4 linked regions of the Homo sapiens genome follow. The protein of the gene in region 1 interacts with the protein of each later gene in a biochemical or structural test. Each region holds a gene or a part of one and is shown in the gene's direction. Other genes may lie near its edges.

Region 1 (3,500 bases):
ATTATTTTTATTATACCAGGGATTTGAAACTCGGCGTGAATTCTACACTGACAGCATATTTCAATTTGGATGTTAAATTTTCCTAGGGAATACAACCTTCATTTTGGCCGGGCGCAGTGGCTCCAGCGTATAATCCCAGCACTTTGGGAGGCCGAGGCAGGCAGATCACTTGAGGTCAGGAGTTCAAGACCAGCCTGGCCAACAGGGCGAAACCCCATCTCTACTAAAAATACAAAAAAATTTAGCCGGGCGTGGTAACAGGCATCTGTAATGCCAACTATTCAGGTGGCTTAGGCAGAGAGAATTTCTTGAACTTGGGAGGCAGAGGTTGTAGTGAGCCGAGATCGCACCACTGCACTCCAGCCTGGGCTACAGAGCGGAGGCTCCATCTCAAAATGAGTAAATTAGGCCTGGCGCAGTGGCTCACGCCTGCAATCCCAGCACTTTGGGAGGCTGAGGCGGGCGGATCACGAGGTCAGGAGATCGAGACCATCCTGGCTAAAAAGGTGAAACCCGGTCTCTACTAAAAATACAAAAAAAAAAAAAAAATTAGCCAAGCATGGTGGCGGGCGCCTGTAGTCCCAGCTACTTGAGAGGCTGAGGCAGGAGACTGGCGTGAACCCGGGAGGCGGAACTTGCTGTAAGCCGAGCTTGCACCACTGCACTCCAGCCTGGGCGACAGAGCGAGACTCCTTCAATAAATAAATAAATAAATAAATAAATAAATAAATAAATAAGTATAATTAAAAATTCAGTTATTTAGTTGCACGAGCCACATTTCAAGTGCCCAGTAACTGCATGTGTCTAATGACTACAGTATTGGACAGCGCAGGGCTACAATTTATAGCCTAAAAAAGGTCTCTATGCAATGAATACCTGCAGTATTTTTTTAAACTTTAAAGAAACCCAAATAATAGCATAAAAACCTATAGAATTGGGCTGAGGCTAAAGTCAATTTAAAGATTCATTATACATGTATTAAATGTATTATACACTTTCCATGTCAGCTTCATGAAAGCTATGACTGATGGATAGAGAGGTTATTCATCTTTTATTTGCCTACCATGGTCAGCTTTTCTGTGAGGCAAATGCAGTGCAAGTTTCAGGACGCCTCACTTGACTAGGCTATACCTAATTTTGCATTCTAAGTTTATTTTACTTTTTAAAGGAGCCCTTCCACATTTATGAGCTTCAGGTCCCACAAAACCTGGAACCAGCGTTAGCCCCTAGGGTAACATGTCCTACTTTTGATTTTATAATGGAATAACATGTGAAAAATGTGGTTGAAGTGGATTACTTTTGTAGAGAATTCCTGGTATTTAGAGTCCTACAAGAGTTACTTTGTGTTTGTAACTACCTGATTATTACTAGAATATGATTTCATTACTATTTAACATTTATTCTCTGTATGTAAATAGGGCATCTGGGCATCATCTTTTTATTCCATAATATTCAATTATAGGACAATAGTAGTATTAATAATAGCATTTTTGTTTATATATAGGCATATTAATTCAAGGGATTCTGGCCCAAAGACATATTCATATATTGATTTTTGCTTTTCAAAGGCGACATAAGGCAATGCCAAATATTATTTCTACAGTGGCAGATACATTTGACTATTAGGTTATCCTGCTGACCTCCTTGAGGGCAGGGATTCTGTTGTTTTTACCTTTGTGTCTTGAGCACTGAGCACAGCTTTGGGCTCATGGTAGCCACTCAGAAATGTTGAATGAGCTAGTGGATAAAGAAACAGGAAAACAAGAAACTCAACTTAGATTTAAATCAGAAGTGAGACCGTTGGCCTAAGATGTAGCAAAGGGTTGGAACTGAAAAACACAGGGCGGTGTCTACTCTTCTGCTCTGAACGTGCCTGATGATACTCCCTGGGACTCTGGTTGGTAATGCTAGTGAGATGTCACTACAGCCCCATGACAGCTACTACTCAGCAGCATCTGGTCAGTCTAAGTAAGCTGGTGAGCACTCCAGTTGTGATATACACAAAACTTAGGTTAGTCCTGTCCAATCCATTAGTTTCTGGACATAGATTGATTAAAACAAAAATTAGACCAGATCATTCAGGTCTCATCCTACTCATTTTTCAACCATGACAATCTCAGATACAAGAATGAATTCAATGCACCACTAAGAAATGTCAATTAGGAAGACATTCCCCACAAAGCAAAGTAATCTGGTGGCCACTCAGAAACCATTTAATCAGCCAACTAAAAATTTGCAAATCTTCAAATTTAAAAGTGAAAGAAATGTACACAGTTTCCATGTAGCAATGCTAATTTTTCCTGGGAAGAATTTCTTTACTGACAGCAATCATGCCTGTATCCTAACCACTGGTTGGATGCTAGGAAATTAGTAGGTATATGCTAAATATTTTCTGAATGAGTTAGTACTTAATTTTATGACTGCAATTAGATTAAGAATAGAATTAGAATTGTCCGAGTAGACTATTAGCTGCCATTTTCCTAAGCACAGAATTTATATAACTCCAATCAGAAAGCAAATATGTATTTATTTAGTTAGTTTTTACTGTGTGTTCGGCACAGTGATCAATGCAATGACAGACACAATATAAATATGCATCCCTGCCTTCAAGGAGCTTGCAATACAGTTAAAGAAATAATCCTAATTTTTATAGTACAAACTTTAAGTAGTGTCAGGTGTCAGAGAAGGAGTGAAGGACTAGAAAAGTCAAAGAAGTCTTCAGAGATGTAGGAGGATTTTACTTGAACTTTGAATAGTGAAAATTTAGGTAGAAAGTTTCTTATTTACTCATTCAACAAATATCAATTGAGTTACTAAAGTGATTCACTGGGAGTACAAAACAATTGTGAGCTAGTGGAGGTCATAAATCTTGTTTTGAAACCAAATCTAAACTCTTCTGAGAGGGTGGCTCACAATCTAATAGCTAGGAATCAGGCAGACAGCAAACAAATCAATCACTGCAGTATTATGTAATAAGGGCTATGACAGGAGTCTGTAGAGGAGGCAGTGGTGGCTTAAAAGAGTATATGAGTTGCTTGGCCTGGAGTGCATGATAAAGGAAGTGTTAACACAGGAGGTAGAGGAGGCCAAGGGTAGAGGGGAAAGCAAGTGCAAAGCTCCCGAGGCAAGTGTTATCAGGGAACCATAAGTACTCATCTATGTCAAGAACATAGGGTAAAGGTAAGAAAGATTAGAGATAAGGTTGAAGAGGTAGGTGGAAGGAATGGGTCCTTTCAGGCCAGGTCACTTCAGCATGTTTATGGAAAGGCACAGACGCTCTAATTATAATAATATTTTTTATATAGCAGAGAGGACACTGACCAAACTGGAAAGGAGAGTAGAGTCAGATGACTTCGAAGAACCTTGAAAGCAAAGCAGAGTAGTTCAGACTTGGTTTCAAAACAAACTGGAAACCATTTAAGGTTATGTATAGGGAAGTAACAAGATGAAAGGGAGGATTTAAGGATAATTAATCTGCAAGAATAAGTCACACCTGGAAA
Region 2 (3,500 bases), on another chromosome or scaffold:
CTATGGACCAGGGGGTCCCAGACCCTTCTCACTGATATGCATGCCCTTGCCCCCTTGTTCTGTGCATTAATTAAGGTGTGAGAGAAGGCAGTTTGGGTGGCAGAGAGCACAGCTCAGGTGCTGAGGGTCCATGGGGGATGGGCCGGACTTTGTTTCCCAGGGCTGTATTTCTGGTGCGGCACAAGTCCACCCGGCAGCGCTTTGCCATGAAGAAGATCAACAAGCAGAACCTGATCCTACGGAACCAGATCCAGCAGGCCTTCGTGGAGCGTGACATACTGACTTTCGCTGAGAACCCCTTTGTGGTCAGCATGTTCTGCTCCTTTGATACCAAGCGCCACTTGTGCATGGTGATGGAGTACGTTGAAGGTACTGAGGCAAAGGTGGCCTGGCATGGAGGCCAAGGCACAGTCTGAGACTTAGCCTTAAACAGGGACCAGCAGCTTTGTACAGAGGTGAAGTTTCAGGGCCCAGCTTTCCAGTCCACCTTTGGCATTGGTTTCTGCCTCAGGATCACAGAGACCATTTGGCCACAGTGGGCACAAAGCTCCCTGCCTCTACCATGAGAGGCATTCTGGGATAGGATGTAGCAGGCCAGCAGCTATAGAATCTTGCACCCCAAAGCCTGCACGCTCTCTACTGCTGGTATCAGACAGCAACAGAGGAGGCAGCAGAGCTACAAAAGCCCAGGATTAGGTGCTAGGAGGTTTGCATCTGGACCCTCAGAAGAAAGGAAAGCCATTAATTACCCTGACTGGCTTGCAAAGGGGACACCCCTTAAAACCAAGCAAAATGCTCTGAGAATAGAACAGAAGAGCAACATGGGGCATAGTTCTGGAGGGAGGCAGCAGCTTTGCCAGTTTCCCTTCCCTCTCACCTTCTCACTGTGTGTACAGCCTCCAAAGATACTGTGCCTAGTCTTGAAGCTGAAGCTGAACAAAACTGTCCTTTAGTGTTTACTGGGTACATGCTGGGAGTTCATAGTGTTACTTTACTCAGAAACTAAAAGCCAGTAAGAAGGAAGTAACATGAACAGATGTTAACATCTCAGCCAGATGTGTTTACAGTATGCAGTATTCCTGTCCTAAAAAACATTAGGCTGGTACAAAAGTAATTGCATGTTTGCCATTACTTTTAATAAAGGCCTGGGTTCCTTCCCTCTCTGGCCTGAAAAATGTCCATGACAGCTATTAGCAGATTCACTTTACTTTCCACCCCCCTCCATACCCTGTGTATTTTCATGCTGCTAATAAAGGCATACCAGAGACTGGGCAATTTACAAAAGAAAGAGGTTTAGTGGACTTACAGTTCCATGTGGCTGGGGAGGCCTCACAATCATGGCAGAAGGTGAAAGGCATGTCTCACATGGCAGCAGACAAGAGAGAGCTTGTGCAGGGAAGCTCCCCTTTATAAAACCATCAGATGGGCCGGACGTGGTGGCTCATGCCTGTAATCCCAGCACTTTGGGAGGCTGAGCCAGGTGGATCACCTGAGGTCAGGAATTTGAGACCAGCCTGACCAACATGGCGAAACCCCGTCTCTACAAAAAATGCAAAAATTAGCTGGGTGTGGTGGTGCACGCCTGTGATCCCAGCTACTCGGGAGGCTGAGGCAGGAGAATCGCTTGAACCTGGGAGGCAGAGGTTGCGGTGAGCTGATATCACACCACTGCACTCTAGCCTGGGTGACAGAGCAAGACTTTGCCTCAAAAAAATAAATAAATAAAAATAACCATCAGATCTCATGAGACTTATTCACTATCACGAGAATAGCATGGGAAAGACCCACTTCCATGATTCAGTTATCTCCCTCCAGGTCCCTTCCCACAACACATGGGAATTATGGGAGCTGCAATTCAAGATGAGCTATGGGTGGGGACACAGCCAAACCATATCACCCTGTCTCCCACCCATGCCAGCAGCAAAGGGGCTAGAATCAGAGTCTCCAGCACCAGGATATTCCATGAAGCTGTCTCCTCTGGGACCTCAGAAACTGCCAGATGGGAGCTGGCTAGCTAGAGCAGGGAACTGAATCCTTTCCTCATGGTAGCCTGGGCTTGTTGCAGGGGGAGACTGTGCCACTCTGCTGAAGAATATTGGGGCCCTGCCTGTGGACATGGTGCGTCTATACTTTGCGGAAACTGTGCTGGCCCTGGAGTACTTACACAACTATGGCATCGTGCACCGTGACCTCAAGCCTGACAAGTATGTCCACAGTCTGTGTCCCTTGTCCAGGGTCTCCCTCTTGGGTCTCCAGATAAAATGTTGGCAAGCACAGTAGCTCTAAATCTATCCAGATGGCTACCGGGAAAACATGCTCCTGTGTGTGTCCATCTGGGCCTAGTTCTCTAGCCCCCCGACCACCCCAGATGCAGATCATTGCCTCAAGGTCTGGCTGGAACACTATAAGGCTTCGGTGACATGGAAGAGTCATTGAGGAGCCCCACTGAAGAAACCAAGCAAGAACAAAAGAATAAGCACATCTAGTAGATGGCTAAACAAGTGTCCTGACGTTTACTGACATCTACTCTGTGCCAGCACTATATTGTGGGTTTTTAAATGTAGTCCCTGGCATGTAGAACTTAAGTCTACAGTGGGAGACAGAAATATATGTATATAGGCTTCTTCTCAGAGGGTATTAGTCAAGTGGAAAAAGGAAGACCTGCTTTCTAAAGCAGGAGAGCAGAATGTGCAGAGTCACACAGGTGCAAGAGAACAGCACTTGTTCAGGAACTACAAATAGTGCAATATGGCGACAGCTTAGATGGTGAGAGAGTAGTAAGAGAAAAGGCTAGAGAGAGAGGCAGGAACTAGTTCATCAAGGGCCCTTTTGTTATATTTGGGTTTTATTCTAAAGGGGCCTAGAGAGTCTTGGAAGGGTCTGCTAACCAAAGATATGATAGAATGGCATGCCCAGATTATGGTTCAGGTTTAGAAAGCTCACTCTGCCGGTGAAAAGAGACACTGAGACCACTGCCAAAGAGATACCGAGACCAGGGAAAGACAGCAATGCCTGCAGCAGAACAGGGAGTCAGGATAGAAAGAAGAGGGGTAGTGTGGGGAAGTATAAAGGAAAGAGGATCAGGCTGGGGTGGGGGTAGGAAGGGAAGTGAGGGAACAGAAGAGGCTGGGATGTGTTCCAGATTTCCAGCTTGGGACTGGTGCAGGGTGATAAGCCTCTGTGGAAGAAAGTGGCTTTGACATAAGACAGACCTGAATTCAAATGGCCACTCTTCTGCTTATTAAGTCTGAGTTTGAGTCTACTAATTAAAGTTTCCCTGACCCTCACGTTCCTCCTTTCTAATATAGGGAATAATTACACCTACCTTTGATGTGTTACTCTAGAAAACATTTCAGGGGCCAGAATATTTTTAAAGCACTTAGCACAGAGCTCAACAGATAACCAAAATTATTGTTTTTCACTGAGGAGGGGAACCAGTTGGGAGGCATGACTTTGTTTTGGACAGGTTGAGTTTCTGGAGCCTGTAAGACACATGGGCA
Region 3 (3,500 bases), about 40 Mb from region 1:
CCAGGCATGGTGGCTCACGCCTGTAATCCCAGCACTTTGGGAGGCCGAGGCGGGCGGATCACAAGGTCAGGAGATTGAGACCATCCTGGCTAACACGGTGAAACCCTGTCTCTACTAAAAAATAGAAAAAATTAGCCGGGCGTGGTGGTGGGCGCCTGTAATCCCAGCTACTCGGGAGGCTGAGGCAGGAGAATTGGCCTGAACCCAAGAGGCAGAGCTTGCAGTAAGCTGAGATCGTGCCACTGCACTCCAGCCTGGGCCACAGAGCGAGACTCCGTCTCAAAAAAAAAAAAAAAAAGTCTTGAATTTTGTTAAATGAGATACATTCGGAAGGAAAGGGTATTCCTTCATTTTGAATTTAAAGTGAAGGAAATTGTTAGTCAGGCTTGCTCTCTGAAGATACTGTGTTTTTTACAAACTGAAGGTTCGTTGGCAACCCTGCAAGTCGATTGGTGCTATTTTTCCAATAGTGTATGTTCATTTTGTGTGTCTCTGTCATATTTTGGTAATTCTCACAATATTGCAAACTTTTCATTGTTATTCTGTCTGTTATGGTGATCTCTGGTCAGTGATCTTTGATGTTACGATTCTAATTGTTTTGGGGCTCCATGAACTGCACCTATATAATATGGTGAACTTAACTGATAAATGTTACATATGTTCTGATATCTCCACCAACTGGCCATTCCCCAACTCTCTTCCTCTCCCCAGGCCTCCCTATTCCCTGAGACACAACAATATTGAAATTAGGCCAATTAATAACTCTACATTGGCATCTAAGTATTCAAGTGAATGGAGAGTCGCGTGTCTCCCACTTTAAATCAAAAAGCTACAAATGAGTGAGCTTAGTGAGGAGGTCATGACAAAAGCTGAAACAGGCCAAAAGCTAGGCCTCTTGCACCAAACAAGCGAGCTCTGAATGCAAAGGAAAGGTTCTTGAAAGAAACTAAAAGTGCTACTCTGCTGAACGTCCAAATGATAAGAAAGTGAAACAGCCTTATTGCTAATATAGAGAAGGTTTTAGTGGTCTGGATAGAAGATCAGACCAGCCACAACATTCCCTTAAGCCAGCAGAGCAAAACCCTCTCTTCAATTCGATGAAGGCTGAGAGAGGTAAGGAAGTTACAGAAGAAAAGTTGGAAGCTAGAAGAGGTTGGTTCATGAGGTTTAAGGAAAGAAGCTGCTTCCCTAATGTAAAAGTGCAAGGTGAAGCAGCAAATGCTGATATAGAAGCTGTAGCATGTTATCCAGAATATCTAGCTAAGATCACTGATGAAGGTGGCTACACTGAACAACAGATTTTCAGTGTAGATGAAACAGCCTTATATTGGAAGAAGATGCCGTCTCGGACTTTCTTAGCTAGAAGGAAGTCAGTGCTTCACCTCAAAGGCCAGGCTGACTCTTTTGTTTGGAGCTAGTGCAGCTGGTGACTTTAAGTTGAAGCCACTGCTCATCTACCATTCCAAAAATTGTTAAGCGTCATGCAAAATCTACTCTGCCTGTGCTCTATAAATGGAGCGACAAAGCCTGGATGACAGTACATCTGTTTATGGCGTGGTTTACTGAATCTGTTAAGCTCACTGTCGAGACCCACTGCTCAGAAGAAAGGGTACCATTGAACAAGTGCTGCTCATTGACAATGCACCTGGTCACCCAAGAGCTCTGATGGAGATGTACAAGGAAATTAATGTTTTCATACCTGCTAACACAACATCCACTCTGTACCCATGGATCTAGGAGTCATTTCAACTTTCAAGAGTTATTATTTAAGAAGCACATCTTGTAAAGCTATAGCTGCCATAGATAGTGATTGTTCTGATGGATCTTGGCTAAGTAAATTGAAAACCTGGAAAGGATTCACAATTCTAGATGCCATTAAGGGCATTTGTGATTCAAAGGAGGAGGTCAAAATGTCACCATTAACAGGAATTTAGAAGAAGTTGATTCCAGCTCTCATGGATGACTTTGAGGGGTTCAAGACTTCAGTGGAAGAAGTACCTGCAGATGTGGTGGAAATAGTATACTGAGAACTAGAATTAGAAGTAGACCCTGAAAATATGACTGAATTGCTGCAATCTTATTATCAAACTCGAATGGATGAAGAGTTGCTTCTTCTGAATGAGCAAAGAAAGTGGCTTCTTGAGAGAGAGTCTATTCTTGGTGAAGATGCTGTGAGCATTGTTGAAATGACAATGAACGATTTACAATATTCTGTAAACTTGGTTAATAAAGCAGTGGCAGGGTATGATAGGATTGACTTCAATTGTGAATGAGGTTCTACTGTGGGTGAAATGCTACCAAAAGAGAGATCTTTTCTGAAAGGCAGAGTGAGTTGATGTGGCAAACTTCATTTTTTTTATTTTTTTGAGACGGAGTCTCGCTCTGTTGCCCAGGCTGGAGTGCAATGGCACGATCTTGGCTCACTGCAACCTCCGCCTCCCAGGTTTAAGAGATTCTCCTGTCTCAGCCTCCTGAGTAGCTGGGATTACAGGTGCACACTGCCACAGCTGGCTAATTTTTTATATTTTAGTAGAGATGGGGTTTCACTCTGTTGACCAGGCTGGTCTTGAACTCCTGAGCTCACGCAGTCCACCCACCTCAGCCTCCCAAAGTGTTAGGATTACAGGCGTGAGCCACAGCGCCCGGCCTTATTGTTTTCTTATTTTAAGAAATTGCCACAGCCATCCATCTTTCAGCAGCCAGCACCTTGTTCAGTCAGCAGCCATCAACATCAAGGCAAAATCCTCCACCAGCAAAAAGATTATGACTCCCTGAAGGCTCGGATGATCACTAGCATTTTAAAAAAATTATAAAGCATTTTAAAATTAAGAGCTAATGCTATTGCCAACATAATAGACTACAGTATACTGTAAATATAACTTCTATATGCACTTGGAAAGCAGAAACATTTCTGTTACCTTATTGCAGTGTTAGTTTTACTAAGGTGGTCTGGAATGGAACATGTGATATCTTCAAGGTATGCCTACGATTTCAGAAATAACCTCTCCTATTGAACCCTCTGATTCTTCCTGTGTTCAGAAACCCAGACCAAAGTGTAGATTTATTGGTCTTTATTTATGAGTAGTTGAATTTTTTTAATGTCTTGTGTTTTGTTTAAATTTTATGTAAACTGCGGCTTAGCTCTTTCAGCATAGTCTTATGCTTTGCTTTCTTAGATTACTGAGTCTTTAAAAGAACTGGTAAAGTGCATATGTGTGGAAAGATTATTTGCTACCTACTATGAACAGATACTTAAGTAAAAAAACAAAAACAAAAAAACCCAAGATGTTTTTTCCAGGCATATAAATGTTTTTTTCTTGAAGAGGCATTTAGTCTTTCTATTTACTAGAACATTATCAGCTTGCTTTACTTATGAAAGAGAGGAGACCATTCTTTTCTCTGTGAATTTAGGAGCTATTTGTCAGGCTTGTTTATTACTGATTGGGTTGCTTGTTACTGATTGTTAGAGAAGGGAGATGAAAATACATAGCAGTTGCGAT
Region 4 (3,500 bases), on another chromosome or scaffold:
ATATTTTACAGATAAGGATACTTTAAAAATAATAGCAGCCAGACATTTGGAAGGAGCAGAGAAGGCAATATGGTGTTATAAGGAAAGGACTGGAAGGTAGAGCACTAACACTATCTAGATTTTAGTTTCATTTCTGACAGTGAAGAGCTGTTTAGCCTTGGTCGATTCAGTAAACTCCCTAGGCGTTAGTTTTGCAATTTGAAACAAAAGGTAGTTGGGCCTCATGGTTTCTAATAGTTTCTCAGCTTTATATATAAATGTGTGCTCTGCCGCAGTTGAAGTTGTTACAATATAGTCATGCTCTGCCTAAGGAAGTTTCAATGATGGTGATCCTGTAAGATTATAGTAGAGCTGCCCTATATAGGTGTACCATTTTTTATTTTTTTATACTGTGTAATTACTGTATCTCTTCTACATTTAGTTATGTTTAAATACACAAATACTGTTACAGTTGCCTGCAGTATTCTGTACAGTTGTGTGCTGTACAGGTTTGTAGCCTGAGAGAAATAGGCCATACTATATGGCCCAAGGTTGTAGTCAGCTATACCACGTAGGTTTGTGTAAGTACACTCTAGAGTGTTCACATAATGTCAGAATTGCCTAATGAGGCATTTCTCAGAATATATGTTAAGTGATGCATGACCGTATTGATAAAATTTTAAGGAAATGTTTGAGTCTAAAATTTGGAATCACATTAGATATAAGTAAAGATTATAAAAAACTGACCCATGGACTTGACACGGAACTTTCTCAAGCAAATTGCAGTTCTACTAATTAAGCAAACATTTATACTACTATGCTAGGTTTTTGGTTTGTGTTTTTTTTTTTTGAGTCAGAGTCTCACTCTGTCGCCCAGGCTGGAGTGCAGTGGCTTGATCTCAGCTCACTACAACCTCAGCCTCCTGGGTTCAAGTGATTCTCCTGCCTCAGCCTCCCAAGTAGCTGGGATTACAGGCGTGTGCCACCACACCCGGCTAATTTTTGTGTTTTTAGTAGAGAATGGGATTTCTCCATGTTGGTCAGGCTGGTCTCCAACTCCCTATCTCAGGTGATCCGCCCGCCTTGGCCTCCCAAAGTGCCAGGCTTACAGGTGTGAGCCACCTCAGCTGGCCTTTTTTTTTTTTTTTTTTTTTGAGACTCAGTCTCACTCTATTGCCCAGGCTGGAGTGCAGTGGTGCAATCTCGGCTCACTGCAACCTCTGCCTCCCGGGTTCAAGCAATTCTCCCTGCCTCAGCCTCCTCAGTAGCTGGGATTACAGGTGTGTGCCACCACACCCAGCTAATTTTCTTATTTTTAGTAGAGATGGGGGTTTCACCATGTTGGCCAGGCTGGTCTCGAACTCCTGACCTCAGGTGATCTGCCTGCCTTGGCCTCCCAAAGTATTGGGATTACAGGCGTGAGCCACTGTGCCTAGCCCAGATTTTTTCGTAATAAAATTAGAAAAATGACTTAATTATTCTGTTGAAGTGGATAGTTATGATGTCAGTTAACAAGTAATCGTGGCTATTTGAATAAAAACTTTGCAACATTATATGAGAAAAATAGCCACTATCATCAAAATTTACATTTAATTTTTTTAATTGACAAAGGTATGGACAACTTGTTCTGGATATTTGTCTTTATACACATACAGTTAATATTTAGAACAAGACAAGCATGGCATTGGAAAATGGTTAGCCTTTTAAGGTTTGTAAAATAGATTTTCTAAAACAAAGAAACTAAAATTACAGTGTTCTGAAAGTTTGTAAGTTGATGTTTTGAAAATTAGAATCTGTTTTTCCAGGAAGTCTTTTCTGTAACATAAGCCTTTTGGCCTGATTTCTAGGCAGCCCGTTGGAGTCTTATAAAAGCCTCACAAATAGGTAAAATAATACTTTGGTGGTAAAATATTTTCTGACTGATTATCAGTTTTTGCCTGGTTTTTGTTAACTGCTGAGCTCTTTGAACAAATAAAATATTTGGCCTACAAGTGCTCTGATTATGAGGTGGGTGAACCTGTAGCCTTGCCAGTCACCCTCCTTTCCCACCTTACCAGCTCCTCACTATTTAAAAATCACTGTTTTGAGTTCCCTGTTAGGAGACTCAGATTCTCCCAATAAGGCATTGCTATTAAGCTTAATTTAAGTACAGAAACTTCCCTAGGTTTCCCCACCTGCTTGCTAGTGGCAGTGAAACCTGCCTCATACTCTAACCCTATAGGACAGTATGAGGTATAGAAAAGCTTCAAAAGATTGGGGGTAATAAACAAAAATAGTAGAAAAGGGTTTGGGAAAATGAGGAGTGTTACAATATGGAGTTTGTAACTTCTTTACCTTCTCTGTGCTTTTTTTATTTCCCACCCATTCACCTCACTTTGGCATTGGGTAGGGAAAGAAGAAAGCCTGTCCTATGATAGGTGCTATGCCATACTTTTATATGCATTATCACATTTGACTTGAATCTTTGAAATGTGTTTCCAAAATACACAGAAAAATTAGGAATGAGATGGGTATTTATTTTTTGTTTTTGAGACGGAGTCTCACTCTGACACCCAGGCTGGAATGAAGTGGCAAAACCTTGGCTCACTGCAACTTCTGCCTCCCAGGTTCAAGTGATCCTCCCACCTTGGTCTCTGAGTAGCTGCTGGGACCACAGTTGTGAGCCACCATGCCCAGCTAATTTTTTTTTTAATTTTTAAAATTCAAAATTTCTCACCATGTTGCTCAGACTGATCTTAAACCCCCTAGGCTCAAGGGATCCTCCCGCCTCGGCCTCCCAAAGTGCTGGGAAAACAGGTGTGAGCCACCATGCCCAGCCTGTTTTTTATTTTTATTTTTTTTTAGAATAGAGACAGGGTTTCACCTTGTTGCCCAGGCTGTCTCGAACTCCTGGGCTCAAGCGATCCACTTGCCTCAACCTCCCGAAGTGCTAGGATTATAGGTGTGAGCCACTGTGCTGGGCCCCTTGAGGTAGGTATTTATTACAGATAAAGAAACTGAGAATCAGAAAGTATATATAATTTGCTAAGGTCACACAACCGGCAGAACTGGGATTTAAACCTAGGGCTGACTACAAGCCTGTTCCATATGCCATAACTTTCTTAGGAATGAGGAGCAATGATGGAAAGGGAGATTTCTTGTCTTTTTTCTTCTTCATTAAATAGTACATTTGAATTGCTGGCAGAGAATGTTCAATTAATACTTTTTTTTTTTTTTTTTGAGATGGAGTTTCACTCTTGTTGCCCAGGCTGGGGTGCAATAGTGTGGTCTCCGCTCACTGCAACCTCTGCCTCCCAGGTTCAAGCGATTCTTCTGCCTCAGCCTCCTGAGTAGCTGGGATTACAAGCGTGCACCACCTTGCCTGGCTAATTTTTTGTATTTTTAGTCAGGCTGGTCTGGAACTCCCGACCTCAGGTGATCCACCTGCCTTGGCCTCCCAGAGTGCTGGGATTACAGGCATGAGCCACCACGCCTGGCAATACTTTCTAATTATTTTATTTTCTTTCTTTTTTAAGAGAGAT

The links. The genes of interacting proteins can lie anywhere in the genome.
Region 2: the proteins of MYPN (region 1) and MAST2 interact in a test that uses a peptide from one of them, tested with the Homo sapiens proteins (one large-scale study listed by IntAct).
Region 3: the proteins of MYPN (region 1) and MPP7 interact in a test that uses a peptide from one of them, tested with the Homo sapiens proteins (one large-scale study listed by IntAct).
Region 4: the proteins of MYPN (region 1) and YES1 interact in a surface display test, tested with the Homo sapiens proteins (one large-scale study listed by IntAct).

What each region holds. Positions count from the first base shown.
Region 1 is NC_000010.11:68,122,988-68,126,487, forward strand, and holds part of MYPN (myopalladin), read left to right. Parts: intron 1-3,500. UniProt on the Homo sapiens protein: Component of the sarcomere that tethers together nebulin (skeletal muscle) and nebulette (cardiac muscle) to alpha-actinin, at the Z lines.
Region 2 is NC_000001.11:46,023,612-46,027,111, forward strand, and holds part of MAST2 (microtubule-associated serine/threonine-protein kinase 2), read left to right. Parts: intron 1-160; coding exon 161-369; intron 370-2,065; coding exon 2,066-2,204; intron 2,205-3,500. UniProt on the Homo sapiens protein: Appears to link the dystrophin/utrophin network with microtubule filaments via the syntrophins. Phosphorylation of DMD or UTRN may modulate their affinities for associated proteins. Functions in a multi-protein complex in spermatid maturation.
Region 3 is NC_000010.11:28,296,565-28,300,064, reverse strand, and holds part of MPP7 (MAGUK p55 subfamily member 7), read left to right. Parts: intron 1-3,500. UniProt on the Homo sapiens protein: Acts as an important adapter that promotes epithelial cell polarity and tight junction formation via its interaction with DLG1. Involved in the assembly of protein complexes at sites of cell-cell contact.
Region 4 is NC_000018.10:802,243-805,742, reverse strand, and holds part of YES1 (tyrosine-protein kinase Yes), read left to right. Parts: intron 1-3,500. UniProt on the Homo sapiens protein: Non-receptor protein tyrosine kinase that is involved in the regulation of cell growth and survival, apoptosis, cell-cell adhesion, cytoskeleton remodeling, and differentiation.